Linked DNA regions of Homo sapiens: region 2 is linked to region 1. The links come from fine-mapping of genetic effects on gene expression. A gene starts in region 1. The other region holds a variant in brackets. All regions are shown on one strand. Distances are from middle to middle.

Evidence for each region. PIP is the estimated chance that this variant, and not a neighbour inherited with it, causes the effect.
Region 2: its variant is fine-mapped to the expression of FNDC3A in whole blood (INTERVAL, PIP above 0.99).

Annotation. Positions count from the first base shown.
Region 1 is chr13:48,971,188-48,979,526 of GRCh38, reverse strand. It overlaps FNDC3A (fibronectin type III domain containing 3A), which reads right to left and starts at 3,615. Exons shown (of 26, transcript NM_001079673.2): 1 at 3,350-3,615. RefSeq lists enhancers at 2,581-2,680, 2,841-3,460, 3,351-3,650, 3,461-4,080, 4,351-4,410 and silencers at 2,821-3,300, 3,631-3,900.
Region 2 is chr13:48,892,257-48,900,595 of GRCh38, reverse strand. It overlaps LOC107984559 (a long non-coding RNA gene), which reads right to left. Exons shown (of 3, transcript XR_001749987.2): 3 at 3,161-3,552. Among named protein-coding and RNA genes, the nearest start is that of FNDC3A, 79 kb to the left of the region's middle. The variant ATAAAG/G (reference allele first, on the strand shown) is at 3,083.

The DNA.
Region 1 (8,339 bases):
TCCCAATTTCTGTCCTTGGATGCTCTTGGACTACTTATTCTACTACTACTTCCAACTCTGCCTGTGAATCTCTTTTGGAATGCCTTTCCTTTTGTTATCTAAATCATTTCTAAGTTTCCTCTGACTCCCTCCAAATGCCTTCCAGGATTGTTCTAGCTCTCACTGGCTTCACTTCCCTTTAAATTCCAGTTGGTGTCACACAACTTAATAATACCATATTATAATTTTTGCTAATGATACTATTAGTCTAGTACCCCCAACTAATTTGTAAACTACTTGAAGGAAGGAAGACATCACACTATGTTTGTATCCCCACTTTAATAACATTGCATCACCCTGCAAGCACATGACATCTCCCAGGTGTAGTTCTCAATCTTGGAGGAAAAAATAGCCCAAGGACTGGTAATGGGTGATAAGTGATTGGAAACATTGAAAGATGACACCCACAAAGGAACTTGATGGAAGACCACAGGTTACACAGAAAACTTGAAAGTATATATTAAAGACAAGCAAAACCACAACAGTGGGAAGACAGAAAGGTAAGAATAAAGATATAAAAAGAGACCACTGAATAATTATCTGAAATAAGACCAAAATATTAAGAAAATTATAAAAGCTCACAATACATGTAAAAGTACAAAATTTGCCTTTCAACATTAATGGCCACTAATTTCGTTTTAACAAGTAGTTTTTGACATTCACACATATGGGAGCCATATTTCTTGTTTTGCAATGTGATAAACTGAAGCAGTAAAAGGCTCAATGGAATAAATATGCACCATATTCTAAACCTTCGGAATTACAATATTGTGAGTTTATTTGAAGTCCGCTAGGCAATGCTAAAAACAAAACAAAAAAAACAAAAGCAAACAAAAAAAAACCAGAAACACTAATCACTTAGTTATCTGGCTAATAAAATTGGAAATCATGTGCATATCCCTACACCATTCTCAAAGACACGATCTAGATTCATTTTCATTCAAAAATGCACCAACAATGTTTCAAAAAAAAAACGTTTTTGGTTACTTCATCAAATTGTATTTTAAAAATACTGGCAGATTATAAAATACACAAGCCTTGGATGTCATGAACATCTTAAAAAATGCAAATGTTTTAAAACAGCGCAAATATTACTAAAAATTGATAAAGTATAAATTAAATGCTCTTTGCCTAAAACTACAAAAGACAATGAGAATATGAATCATGCATTCCCTCTTTTTTTCGGGGGGTTAAGGATGTCTCAGCCCTTAGCTATGTCTGGCTGGTCAGGGAAGAGGGAGAAATTTTTAAATTAGTAATAAAATATGCTTACTATTATATTGTAGAAATGTGACTAGTAAAGAGTAATCATTACATGTGTGTTAAAATAAATCAGGTCTCAATTACTCACACAGATAGAGGAAGTGAAGACACAGACGTCACCAAAAGAAGATAATCCTAGAATGTTTTTTTTAATGCTTATTATTAATTTGGGATAAATTAATTACCCTTATAACTATGCTTGACAGTGTTAACCAGGATTTTATTTTTCCGGAGCATTCAATGATTTGGAGGATTCAGACAAAAGGGAAAAAGAGGGAGTTAATTCAGAAGCATACAGGTGGCTAACGGTAGCCAGCCTGGGATAAAAAATTTTCCAGTTAACCTACACATAGAAAACTAACAGATGATCTATGAAATGAAACAAGACAATATAGTAAAATTTAATGTAGTAGTGCTAAAAAATTTAAATATAAGATTTAATATTAAAATTTTAACAAGATGTTTCTCCTGTCATCATCCCTTCTTCCCACTAACTGGTGTGATTAGAAAGCAAGATTAGTAGGCTACAAAGCTAAAAGCAACATTTCAGGTTATATTTCATAAAAGATGTGGTAAAAATCCTTCATCACTGTTTTCTGTTGGGCCACCATCTGTCTCAGTGAGTACTTCATCTCATTACTTAAGAAAAATTAATTCAACCAAGAAAATATCCAAAAGACAGGGGATTCAACTCACTTGAACATTTGTGGGTGACACAAGATGACAAGAGTTAGTAAATACGCAAAAACTAAATATTTATCCAAACATAAGATCAGAACCACAAAACTCAATTCGTTTCTGCCTAACATATGGCTCAAACTCCTGAGTGGCGTATGTTTAGTACTGGAGCTGGTAACAGCATGGTGATAAAATATTATAGTAAGAGTTCAACTGTTATTTCATTCCTACAATACAGAAGCATACACACTTTGGTTTCAAGAACTAAAAAACACAGACCACAGTAAGAAGCAAAATAATTACGTTGTTCGGTTTTAAAAACCCATAGTGAACACATAATGATTATACCGCAAAAAGAAAAAAAAAATCTCATCAGCCTGCGACTCTTATTTAATAGATGGTCAGACACAAAGGTGTCCAAAGGAACTTACGTAAAATCTCACAAAAGAAAATCTCGAATTCACAATCTCTAGCACCCCCAGCAAATCATCGCATTCCACCCTCTAAAATATCCCAAGGCTTGTAACGCTAACAGTTGAATAAAAGAACAATTAACGACCACATCCATTAAAACAGTCCCTCTTCTGCTCGCAATCTGACAGCGAAATTATCTGTTCATTTTCCTTTACCTAACACATGACGTCGTTTCCAAAGCCGTGTCAAAAGTTCGAAGATCCAGGTTGTTAAAACCGGGCGAGGACTGCAGCCTCGAGTCCACCTCCCGACTGAACAGGTGGTTAACTCGCCCGGGGAGAGGAACTGCCAGGTACTGGAAGCAGCCACGCAGGATCAAACAGAGGGCGGGTTTTCGAGGTTTTAACCCCAAGATGAGCGGGGAAAACTCTCTTCAGAAAAGCGTTCAAGTTCGGCGGCTGCCGGGCGGCCAAAGCCGAAGGCGCCGCGGGTGCTGGGCGATCCTCTCAGGAGGATTCCGCCCCAGCCCCCGCCCCCGCCCCCGCCCCCGAGCCCTCCGGAGCTACGCGGCTCGCCGCGGGGAGGAGGCGGGGGACAGAGAGAAGGGCCGCCCGCGCACCAGCGCCACCTCCCTCGGGCTAGATGCCGCCTCCTCTTGGGCTGGATGGCGCCCCCGGCCGCGCCCCCGCAAGCGTGTCCTGGCTAGGCTCGGCCCCGGCAGGTGCCCGACTAGTAGACCGGTCCTGTCCCCGGCCCCACTGCCCCTCTGCACCTCTGCCCACAGCGCGCCCACAGAAGGGGGTGGTCCGCGCCCCTCGACGGGGCCGAGCCCTGGAGAGTGCCCCGGCCCTCAGTCCCAGCCTAACGGTTTCCGCGGCGCCTCCTCCGGGGCGGGACGGGGTTGGGACGGCTCGGTGTCCCCCGCCTTTCGCGGAGGGAGTGCCCGCGCTCTCACCTCCGAGTCACGCCGTTCTGAGGCAGAAGGCGGCTCCTCTGGCGCCTCTTCTTAGGGTTCCTGATCGTTGTCTCTCTACCTCAGCTGCAGAGTCAGCTCTCAGGGCCGCCGCGGCCGCCGGCGCGCTGACTGTTGGGGTTGTTTCCTGGCAGTGACGCCGCCGCCTCAGCCCCGCTCTTCGCTCCCTCTCCGCGTAGCTCCCGCTTTCTGTTTCACCCGAGGGACCACGAACGCCGCCGCCGCCATGCTTACTACGGAGCCGGGAGGAGGAGCCCGAAGTCGGCGCGCCGAGTGCGGCTGCGCGGGCCCCGCCGACGGAGCCCGCGGCCGGGACCCCGAACCCCCGCCTCGAGCCCGCCGCGCCGGGGCTCTCTCACCGGAACGCGAGTCCCCGCGGGGCCACCGGCGCGTGGCGGCTGAGCGGCCGCGTTTGGCTCCCGGAGCGCCCACACCCTCTCGGGCTTCCGGCTTTCTCCCGAGGCCCGGCTGCGCCTGGCTTGTGGTAGCATCCGCTGTGGCCAGGCTCGGAGCTACACTCAGGAAAAGTGGAGTTAATGGAGGTTCCTAGAGACACTCACACAATTCTCAATCCACATTTCAAAAGGCTCCCCTGAGACGCACCCTGTCGGCCCCTTTCCGAAAGCACGCGAACTTAAGGCTGGCAGGTGCTTTAAAAGACACTCCTCCCAAGGACTAGGAAGCCTCTGAAATGGGCTTGGAAGTTTCTAATCCCAAAGACTTCGAACCCAGGATCTGGATAGCAAGCAAAAATATTTAGATATTTACTCAGTTGAAAACGTGGGGGGTGGCTTCGTGGTCTCTTCGCCAGCCAAATCGCGTGGAAAACCACGACCTCAATTTTTACAACAGCACGAAGACTTACAAGTGAGCGTAGCAGCGACTTCCTGGAACCTCAAACAATGTGGGACGCTGCAATAATGCCTGAGGGCTTTTGACTTACAGTTGCCGCCGGAGACCTGGGGAGGGGGTAGTACTTGGGCCGGTGAGTCCAGCCTCAGGAACTGTCCTTTCAAAAATGGTGATGGATGTAACAAGTTGCATGTCTGGGCTTTATTTCAGTGTATTAATTGTGCGATCTTTTAAAATAGCTGTATTTTTAAAACTGTTTTACAGAAATCTCTTTAAAATGTGATTATTCTCTATATTCTTAAAGAATACAATGGCTAATTAAATCCTTTGTTGATAACTGACTCTCAAACCGATATCTTGGCCATACGTTTAAGTCCCAGAGGATTGCTGCGGTGTATAGAATCCCTACTTTGGTGCTCTCTTTTTTTCCCTCTTTGGAATGTTCTCATCACCTCTTCTAAAATCCTTCACTGCTTTTCATCTCCTCATCTGCCTCTATCCACTCTGATCCTTCCTCTTATTCTTTCTGCTTTACTGTTTATTTTTCATTCTTCTCTCCTTTCTCGGCTGGTTTTCTCTGCGGCTCCAGGTGAAGATTGATGGGATGTTTATGTCCACAGCCAGCTAATGAGAGGTTTCTTTTCTTCTGGTTGTAAATAGGGCAGTGGTATCTTGAGATATTTTCATTGCTCTTCACTATCAGAAGTTCTTTCCCTGTGAGAGATGTTTCCTTTTCTTAACTTTTGGATTTGGCCCTCTTCGAGACAGCTGGCAAGTTGATCTTGGAATAATTGAAGTATAACTGTATATTGTTTCAAAGTATGAGGATTTTATCAGAGTGTGGGCGAATGGGGTGGCTTCCCCATCTTACTGCCCAACTATGCTTGGTCTGAGACTAAGATAGTGGTTTCCAAACTTACCGCTAAGCTAATACTTTCCTACTCTGCTTCCTACTCAGGAGCTTTTTGAAAATACAGAATCCTGCAATCTACCCCCTCAAGATTCTGATTCCTTTGTCCAGGGAGAGGCCAAGACATGGCACTTTTAAAAACTATATTTAAAAAAATATGTTTGGGACATGCCTACATGTAAAGGCAGAGTAAAGAAGATCAGCTGTTTTTGAAGGAGATTAACACATAATTTAAGAATGTTATTGAAGACCTAGAGATTGTAGTCAATAATATGCAATGCAGTAAGGTGAAGTAAAGTGAAGACCAAGGAATTTATGGCCTTTGGAGAGAAGAAAACCCACACATAAATGACCCTAGCATGTGCACCAGTATGAGTTCTCTGGGAACAGAGAGAGGGTCAAGAAATTATGTTGGCTTTGAACAAGTTCTCTTCTCAATGCTTCACTTTTTTTTTATCAATAAAATGGGAGCCATTTTCAATCCTCATCTTTCTTGGCCTCTCAACAATACTCAACACTTTGACCACTATTCTTTCTTAAACATTTCTTCTTCCTTTGACACTGCATTTTCTTGGTTTTCCTCCTTAGTTTCCTAGGCACTGCTTCTCTGATTCCTTTGCATATTCCTGCTGGTCTCCCTAACTATTAAATATAACAGTACCTTAAAATTCAGTTTTAGATTCTTTTCTGTTTTCATTGTAATCTCTTGGCCTAAGCAGCATCACCCACGCCAATGGCTTTAGTTATCATCTATATGCCAGTGATCTCCACATATATGCCTCCAGCCCAGACCTTTCCTCTAAATTCCAAATCTGATCCACTAGTCAAAGTTTGACCCTACCTCTAAATTCCAAGCTTCACTGACATGGCCACTTAATATCTCAAAGTTGCAAAGTTTAGTCCAACTGAGTTCATGAACACTTGTTTTCCTTATCCCCCATCTCTCTAGTTATTCAAATCAAATATCTAGTAGTCAGTAACCGCTGATGTCTCCCTCACCTCCATTCTTCCATTCTCCATATTTGTTGCAGCACTAACTCCTGGCAATTTTATTTCTAAAATCTAATTGGTCTACTTCTTTCCAATCACCACCAATCTAATTCGATCTCACTGTATACAATCTGGGATCCTCCATTCAGTCTCCATTTTGCAGCCAAAATTATCCTCTAAGAAAGCAAATGAGACTATGTCACTACTCCAAAAATCTCCTTAAACAGTTTCTCATTGCTTTAGGATAAGTCTAGAATTCTTAAGGCAGCCTAAAAGACCATACGAGGTCTGGCCTTACCTGCCTTTTCCAGCCTCATCTCACACCATTTTCACCTTGTTTCCTGGGCAGACTTCCTGGTCTTCTTTTAGTTTCTCAAAAATGCTATGATCCCAACAACCAAAGGCTCTATGTACATGCCATTCTCTCCTTTAGTTATCCTATCTCTTACTCATCCTTCAGGTCTCAGCTTGAAAGCGACATCCTTGGGAAAAACATTTCTGACCTCCCAGATACATTCAAGATACCTTGTTATGTCAGCTCTCTTACCACCATATACCCTCCCCTCTTATGACTTACCACAGCTTGTAACTACATTTTGGTATGTGTAACTACTAGGTTAATGTCTGTTGCTCCCCACATTAGGATAAAGACCATGTCTATTTGGGCCTGCACAGTGCCTGGCACATAGAAGCTACCCAATAAATATTTCTTGAATGATTATTGTCCTATGAGTTTATTTCTGGGATTCTAGAAGGTTGTTAGATCGGGAAATTAGATCACTGATCATTTTCAAGAGAGCAATCTTCTGTATGACTAGTGGGAAGAAATGCAGAAATGTGCTGGAAGACAATTCTCTGTGGGACTCTAGTATTTCTGCATGTCTTGTGAGCAGAGGCACTAACAGCTTTTGTTTTAGACTATATTTTCAAGGATTTTTTTTTTTTTTTGGTCAAACTGCCTTGGAAAATATACATAGTGTCCCCTGCCCTGCTCCCCCTCCCCGCCAAGAGCAGGGGCACATTTGTTTACCATCCAATATAGTGAAGATAATGTCTTTGGAGGTAAAGGTCAAGCAGGTTTTCTTGCAGCCTATTATAAAAAGATTGGGGATTTCCTAAGCTTAGATAGAGTTTCTCAGCTGTGAGGCAAACCCACTGCAGGTGCATCACTCACCTGAACCACACCATGTAGCTCCAGGTAAGACCTGGGGGCAAGGGAACTGACTGAACATGACACTGGCGCTGCTTGCTGTGCCATGAGTAATACAGCCCTTTGACTGCAAAGCCCCACGTCTTCTGCCAGCTTCCATGAAACTATAGCAGGTTAAGTGATTAGCTTGCAAGGAGGATGAAATCTCAGACCTTTCATAGTTCTTGACAAAGTACAGTGGGTTAAAGAGAAAGACGAAGATGAAGAAGTCAAACAGCAAGTGGAGACTATTTAGAAAGTTTGGAAAAAAAAGTTTGGTGATGAAGAGGAGAGATGGGACAGCAGATTGAGGTGGGAGGGGTGTGCTGACTGAATTCTCTGAACAATATTGGTGGCCTTAACTCTGAACAGATCCCGACAGAACACTATTGCTGTTGTTCCTCTCTTTGGTTAGGGAACAGGTGCAAATCTGAAAGAGGAGAAGGAGATGGAAGTGGTTGACCTGGAGGTACACCAGTTAAAGCAGCCAGAGCTTTTTTTTTTTTAATCTCTGAGAAGGGGTGTAGTATAATGTGGAGCAGGAAAGACAGGCTTTGGAGTCAGGTAGATCTGGGCTTCAGTCGCAGCTCTATTACTAACTGATTGATTGATCGATCTTAGGCTTGTTATCCAACCTTTCTGGCTTCAGTTCCTCAACTATAAACTAAGGATAAAATACCTACTTTGCAGGATTAAATTTCATAATGTATGAAGATGCCTGGTATATGCTTGATGCTCAATAAATAAATGTGAGCTACATGATTAGGATGTCCTGGCTAATTGTGATTTGGTGAGGTTGGGAAAATCCAGAACCTTCCTCCACATTTCCAAGGATTCTTGGAAAGGAACTTGGCCAGGGTGCACACTTGCTCTGATCCTGTTCCCGTTTCCATCCCACTCTGTGCTTTCCTATGGATGGAACAGCTCCTTCCCTAAAAGCAAAGGAAACAAGACACAGAATAGGAAGCGACTTCACATTTAATGTTGGCCATTCCCACCACAGGGAATTTCTCAGTAGCCATCATTCTTTT
Region 2 (8,339 bases), 79 kb after region 1:
TCTTTGGTTTTCATGGAAATGTCAGAGGTAAAAATATTTTGAAACTTTTTAGTTTAAAACCTAGTATAAATCATTTTCAGGAAGAGCTTTAAAATAAATTGGTTGAGTGGAGAAAGCAGCACTTTATAAACATTGTCATTGTGACCTATGAACATCACATTTATTAGTTCCTAGTTTGGTTCCAATTTCTGAAACCTAGTGTTGGGTGGGATGAAGGAAAGACATATAAATGACTTCTTTCTGCTGTGGAGTCAAAACATGTACTTTCCTTAACCTCATTTACACCCACCTATATTTTCCCTCTCTTTGCCAGTTTTTGTACCCATTAATACTTTTTTGAAACAGAAGCTGAAGCCTGGAATTATGGCTGTTGTTATACACATAGGACTTGTTCAACAAAGTGGGTTAAAATTTCTCACTTTTATTTTCAGAAAACCATAGTTAATATTACCAGAAAGAAATAGGTATAAGGAAGGAGTTCCTTTTTACTTAGGAAATCTGAGGGCAGAGAATAACAATTCACCCACTGAATGAACAGATATCTATTAGGTAACTTTTACTATGTCCAGACATTGCTGGAAATTTGGAACAAAAGCTTAGACAAAATGATGAGCATATCAGATACAGCCTTTTTCTTCATGGAACATTTAATCTAGTGGGGGAGACAGACATGAATCAAGTAATAGAAATATATAGTAAAATACAGATGGTCCCCAATTTATGATGATTAAACTTATGAATTTTTTTACTTTAGGATGGTGCTAAAGTGATAGCCATTCAGTAGAAACTGTACTCAGAGTACCCATATAATAATTTTCTTTTTCAGTATCGGTACAGTATTCAACAACTTACATGAAATATTCAACACTTTATTTTAAAATTGGCTTTCTGTTAGAATATTTTGTAACATAATATACATTTTCTGAGTACCTTTAAGGTAGGCTAGGCAAAGCTATGATGTTCAATAAGTTAGATGTATTAAGTGCATTTTCAACTTATGGCATTTTCAATTTAGGATGGGTTTATTGGGACATAACCCCATTGTAAGTCTCTAGCTATCATCTGTAATTAACTGAGAGAATTGCCATGAAGGGAAAGTACACACACAGTATCATTGACAGCTGGGGGAATATAGGCATGGAAGGCTTTTCAAAAGGAGGAATATTTGAGATGTGTTCTGAAGGCTAGGAGAGCAGAGTGGAAGGAGAGAATTTTAGGCAGAGAGAACAGAAGGTATAAGTGTCCCATAGTAGGAATGGGCATGGTGCTGACTGAGAAAAAGCTGAGGATGGGCATAGTGGCTCATGTCTGTAATCCCAGTGCTTTGGGAGGCTTAGGCAGGAGGATCACCTGAGACCAGGAGTTCGAAACCAGCCTGCACAACATAGTGAGACCCCATCGCTACTGAAAATAATAAAAAATAGCTGGGCATGGCATTGCCTGAAGTCTTAGCTACTCAGGAGGCTGAGGTGAGATGATCACTTGAGCCCAGAAGTTTGAGGCTGCAATAAGCTATGCTCCCACCACCATACTTCAGACAGAGAAAGATGCTGTCTTTAAAAAAAATGCTGAAGAGGCTGAAGATGCAGGCAGAATCCAGTGTACCAAGGGCTTGAGGGTTTGGGCACTATGGGGAGGCACTGAAGGGGTGGCCCGACTTGAGTCATGTTCTAAAAACATGTATTGTATGGCACAAACTGGAGACGGGCAAAAGAGGACCCAGGAGGTCAGCCAGAAGGCCATGTTAGTAGCCTAGGTGAAAACAGTAGTGACTTGGACAAAAGTATTGTAAAGGAGATAAAGGAAAATGGATAGATTTAAGAAGCATTAAGGAAGTAGAATTTCCGGGGCAGGAGGTAGACTAACTTGGAGAGTGAGAGAGAAGGCATTTGGACAGGAAATTACATCTTCTCTCATAGGTGGCTGCACACTGGAGGAAACTTACCATTTCTGGGCGTATGTTACTTGAGATGGGTCTGAGAATGGGTCCTATCTTATCAGTTAGAGATGAGAAATGCTCTTTAAGGGGAAGGGAAAGATATTGGAATGAAAGAGAAAAGAGTAATATAATCCAAGGTACAACACAAGTGGAAGAGTAGGGTGAAAGGATTAGGGTAGGAGGGAAGACAGAAATGTGAGTGGTGAGGCAAGAAAGAGAGGTTGGGACTGGATTAAGTGTAAAGATAGGGGTAGGAAAGATAGATGTAGAGCTGTGAATTCATCTAAGAAGTTGATACTATTCTCCACACAGTGAACTCAGGAGATTAAAATTACAACGAATGGTGCCATGGCTCTAAGGTTCCAAGTCTGGATGGGTAGAATCGTGGATGGTCTATTGTCAACAATAAAAAAGTCTTGTTTTTAAGTTAGAGGTGCTGGTAGCACTTTTCAGTAGAATTATTTATCAGGCATTAGAAAATGTATATGACTTGAAGTTCAGGACTGAAGATGTGGATTTGGAAGTCATCCTCAAATAGTTAAAGCTGGGTTGGGGCAAGGGCGAAATTGATGAGATCACCAAGGAATTAAGTGTAAGAATTTTAGAAAATAGACCCAATGCAACAGCCTTGGGAAATGTCCTATAGAAAGGGCATAAAGAATGGTTGTTGATGACAGGAGCAGAGAAGAGCCATCAGAAAGGCAGGAAATGAGCAAGAGGAATGTAGTATCAGAGAAAGCGGGGTGGTTGAGAGTTGCAGGAGAAATAAAGGTATTAACAATGATAAATTTCTCACCCTTTGGGTCTTAGGTTAATATTGAAAGGTCTGGGGAGCTGGGTGCTGTGGCTCATGCCTATAATCCCAGCACTTTGGGAGGTGGGAGGATCATGAGGTCAGGAGATCGAGACCATCCTGGCTAACATGGTGAAACCCTATCTTTACTAAAAATACAAAAATTAGCTGGGTGTGATGGTGGGCACCTGTAATCCCAACTACTCAGGAGGCTGAGGCAGGAGACTCACTTGAACCCAGGAGCTGGAGATTGCAGTGAGCCAAGATCATGCCACTGCATTCCAGCCTGAGCAACAGAGCAAGACTCCATCTAAAATAAAATAAAATAAAATAAAATAAAATAAAATAAA[ATAAAG/G]GTCTGGGGAAAAGCTCCTTAGGCTTGAAGCAAAGACACAGAAAAGAGAGGACCAAAAGACTATAGGGAGGGAAGGCAAGCATCAGAGAAGGTGCTCAGGAAATCCTTTTTGAACAAGGAAGGGTGAACAGTGGACCAACCATTACGTACCTGGGAAGTTCTTGGTGGTATCCCCAAAGTTTTTAATTAATAGCTGTGGAGCTTCCATTGTTTTCCATTGTGTCCTAAAAACCATAAAATAATGCAGCTGAAACGAGTAATTCACTCTTAGGTGTTTTCTGGTCTTTGTTTGATACTCAGTATAGAGTTATCTTAAAAGCTCTCAATCCACTTGCTCAGCAACTTCAGAAATTGCTACAGAAATCACTGGTTGGGCTTCCAGTCTTGGTGCAATGGACATGCTGATGTCTGCTGCTTCCTTCCACACAGTCTTCTTGGGTAGCACAGTCAGGAGTCACCAGGTTCCTATAAAAGAAATCATCAGTTGATAGCTAAAGATAGGCCCAATTACAGTACCTGGCAGGCATCTTGCACTCTTTTGGTTAGATTACAGGACCCAGAAGGGACTATCTGGAAGGCATTATGAGATTTCTCTCAGCTTTACAGAGTTTCTTGTTGGAATCATATCCAAAGGACAAGGGTGAGTGGCTGGTTGCCTGTCAGTAGGCAATTTGTTGGCTGCATAAGCTGCAAAATGTGTATAGCCACCCACATTAGACATATTTATGTTTAGCTATATATTAGAAATAGAAATATGCAATTGAAATTAAAAGAGCATTGCTCTGCTGTAACACCTTCCTACCACTCCTCATCAGAGCACATAGTCATATCAGCAAGCCCTCTTGGAAGGGGCACAGACATGGGAGTCAGGAAGACTAGGTTCTAAATCCCTGCTCTGTACCTACTAATATGGCCCCAGTCAAGTTACATCACATTTCTGGGTCTCAGATTCATAATGTAAAAACAGGAAGTATTGTAATTGGACCTATCTTCAGCTGTACACTGATGACTCATGAATCCACATCTTTGCTGAGATCTTGCTCCTAAGTTATTTACCCTTATGTCCAATAGCTTCCTGGGCAATCTCTATGTAGATGTTTCACAGGCAACTCAAACTCAATTCTTCTACAGATCAGGGCATTTTACCTGCTGAGAGTGGGAAGTAGGGGTGGAGCATTCCCAGAATTCAGGATGGAGAGGCCCTCGTTCACCTTATATGAAGCCGAGGCTGTACGGGAAGTAAGGGAACACCCCTATCACCTCTTCTTCCCATTGGTGTGTGAGGGTGCCACTTAGCTATTGACTGTGTACCTTTGAGAAGTTGCCTAATTTCTTTGTGCCTTGGTTTGTGCATGTATAACCTGAGGGGGTCGGACAGGACCATCTCTAAGGTCTCTTCCAACTCTAATGTGATTTGATTTTTTTTTTTAATTGAGACGGAGTCTCACTCTGTTGCCCAAGGTGGAGTTCAGTGGCACCATCACAGCTCACTACAACATCTACTTCCCAGGCTCAAGGGGTCCTCCCACCTCAGCCTCCCCAATAGCTGTGTCTCCAGATGCATGCTACCATACCTGGCTAATTTTTTGTACTTTTTGTACAGATGGGCTTTCCCTATGTTGCCCAAGCTTGTTTCTAACTCTTGGGCTCAAGCAATCTGCCCGCCTCAGCCTTCCAGATTTGATTTTACTTTGTAGTTACTCCTTTCCTCCTTAAGTCTTTTATGTTTCATTTATTTCTCTTTCTTGACACCCCTTCCCCTCCTTTCTAAGTGTATAGGTTGGTGGTGAAAAGAAGGTTGAAAAATCTTAGGGAAACTAGACAAGAATGCATATGTTATCTGTTCTATACTTGGGTCCTCTATGTATTGACTTCTGTTTTCAACTTAAGCCCATGAAAAATAGGCTTAAGTTGATCCTTCAGATATTCTAGGATATTTTCAAAGTGGCCCAGATTGAACTGGTTTTTAACTTGGAGGCATTGGTCTCAGTCACACCATCTATCAGCAATTCCATTGTTTTTTGTCAGAAATATTGTCTCTAATCAGCAACTTTAGCCAAATGTCTCTATGAAGATGCATCATCAAAGGGAAAGAAGTCTATTCAGAATATCTTTCAAACCAAATTTCAGTAACTTTAGTAAATAGTAAGATTTCCATTGGAATGAGGTCACCTGATGGCTCAGGCTTCCCAAGGTGCCATGTTAGTACATATCTAGGAATTCCTCTGTCAATTGCTGATATGGCTGATTCCTTGTCATTGTTCAAAATTCAGCTCAAATGTCATCTTCTTGTAGAACACTGCCTTGACCATCCTAGCTAAACCAGTCTTCCAACTGCTTGGTCACTTTACCACATCATTGCTTTTCATTATTATAGCATTTATCACTGCCTGAAATTACAGTGTTCATTTATTTGTTTATTCCTTGTCTTTTCCTTCACAAAATGAGAGCTCAATGGAAACTGGAAGTTTATTCACCTTGTTCACTAATATATAGCCAGCAGTTAGACAAGGGCACATAGAAAGTAAGTGCTTGAGTACATACCATGGTGAATAAATCAACTTTTGGAATGTGCAAGAGTTTACCTAATACATTCACCCAACAACCTCAAATGTCAGGTCTTCCATCTGACTGCTGTGGAAATGGGTTAATAGCCTTAAGGGTTTTAACACTGGACTAGGTGGTCTTTTATACAATCTGATATTCTCTGCTTTCCAGCCATACTATATCACTAATTAGCTAGGTAATGCTATCTATATGGAAATTATAAAGATACATTCACACATTTATCTTTACTAAAATTCTTACTGCTTGAAATAAATAATGATCAATAACACTTTTATTTTTTAAATGTAGTTTTCTTTTTTAAAAAGCTGAATAATCCTTTCTTCAAATGAAAAGCTTATGAGGAAGCCTAATACATATGAGACAAAATGAAGTCAACTGAAAGAAATAAGAATGAGGCAGAAGACGGGGAAGATTTACAGTTTTATCTACTCCCCGGAAGTAAAACCCTTTTCCTCATTGCAGCCCCTGGAATAGTTTGATTATTACTGGATTATAATAATAATAATAAGTAATTTTTTTGAGTAATTAGTAGGTACCAAGTACTTTACATGTATCATCTTGTCAATTCTCATAACACCCCTATGAAATAAGTATATTGTTATTGTCTGTATTTCGCGAATAAGGAGACTAAGGTTTAAAGAGCTAAAAGTAGCTCGCTCAATATCTTTGTGGTAGTCATTTTCCAAGATAGCTGCCAGTGATTTTCACATTCTGGTGTCAGTGCCTTGAGTAGTCCCCTTTCACATTAAATCTGGGGTGGACAGTGTGACCAGTAGAACATGGCAGAGTTGATGGGATATAAATTGCAAGGTGAAGCCATAAAGGCATTGGAGCTGCTTTGCTTTCCTGGGTCACTGTGGGGTAAGCCAGTTGCCATGTCATCAGAACATTCAAGCAACCAGTGGAGAGGTCCATGTGAAAGGAAATTAATCTCCCTGCCCATAACCTCCACCAACTTGTCATGTGAGTAAGCTGCCTTAAATGTAGATCTTCCAACCCCAGTCTAATTTTCAGATGACTGTAGCCCTAGCCAATATCTGACTGCAACCTCATGAGAAACCTTGTGTCCAAGACCACCCAGCCAAGCTGCTCCCCAAATCTGACCTACAGAAACTGTGGAAGACAAAAAAAATGATTATTGCTGTCATAAGCCAGAAAGTTTTGGGGGTGATTTGCTATACAGAATAAGGTAACTGGTTCAGCCTTGCAGACAGTTAAATGGCAGAACCAACATATTTAACCCCAAATGTCATTCTAGAACCTATTCTCTTAACCATGAATGCTCTGTTTGCTTACACACTCATTTTTAACACAAAGTTAAAAGTTATTCAAGCATCTCACAAACTCCATGTCACAGATAAGAAAACTGAGGCATGAAGAGGTTAAAAACATAATTGGTGATGACCAAGTGTGGTGGCTCACTCCTGTAATCCCAGCATTTTGGGAGGCTGAGGCAGATGGATCACCTGAGGTCAGGAGTTTGAGACCAGCCTGGCCAACATGGTGAAACTCCATCTCTACTAAAACTACAAAAATCAGCCAGGTGTGGGGGCAGGTGCCTGTAGTCCCAGCTACTTGGGAAGCTGAGGCAGGAGAATCGCTTGAACCTGGGGAGGCGGAGGTTGCAGTGAGCCAAGATTGCACCACTGCACTCTAGCCTGGGCAACAGAGAGAGACTCCATCTCAAAAAAAAAAAAAAAAAAAAAAAGAAAGAAAGAAAAAAAAATTAATTGGTGGCCGGGTGGCCTAATTCCAAGACCTATTCTCTTAGTCACTATGCTACGTTGATGTCATTATCAGAATTATCCTTCAATAATATTAAACTGGAGATGGAATGCCAAGAATAGAATGAAAAGGAAAGAGCCTAGAGGTGTGCACTTTCACTGGGAGGCTTTTGCAATTATTGAGGAAAACAGTTATTTGAAAGAAACAAGGCCTCTGTCGTGGAGAGTAACTACTGAAATATTTCTCAAAATATCCTTGATACCACTATCAGCTACTGAAGATTTGGATGAGCAGGCTCTTGGTGTGACACAATACGATATTTCTTGTATTGCAACAACCTCTTCTCATTGGTCAATCTTCCAGAAGAAACTTAACCATGGTCATTGCCCAACCCATTCTCCCAAATGATGAGAGTTGAACCAATTGAAGATTGCTTTCAGCATTCGCTATTATGTTTAGTCTCTGTTTTCCTGTAGCACCCTAATAATTGTCTTTATATTAAAATATACATGACTGTTTTTGAAAGAGGAAAGATAATGGACCAAGATTTTCTGTCTTTGAAGTAAGCTAACGAATCAGTATAATTGGAACGAGAAATCCTGGCACAGGAAGAGAGAACTGATTGTGCTCTGTCCTTGGTAGAATTTTGAGTCATTCATGCAGTATAGTGTCTGGAGAGTTCTAGTGAGTCATGCATTGCTAACTATGGAAGAAAAATGTATTTTCTAAAGTTGTCTGTTATTACTCATGTCTTTCAGTCAGGATCAGCAGATGCTGGTATCCTATTGACTGGTGATCTAATAGAAAGTTTCTCATAGACAGGTCTGACACAATTTCCCTCTAACTCTGATAAATTTGGCACAAGTCCTTTTATTTGCTTGCAAGATGTTTGCATTAACATTGTGACTTATTTTTGGCTTGGTGTTAGAAGGAGTGTTTAGTAACAAAATGGAGCATTT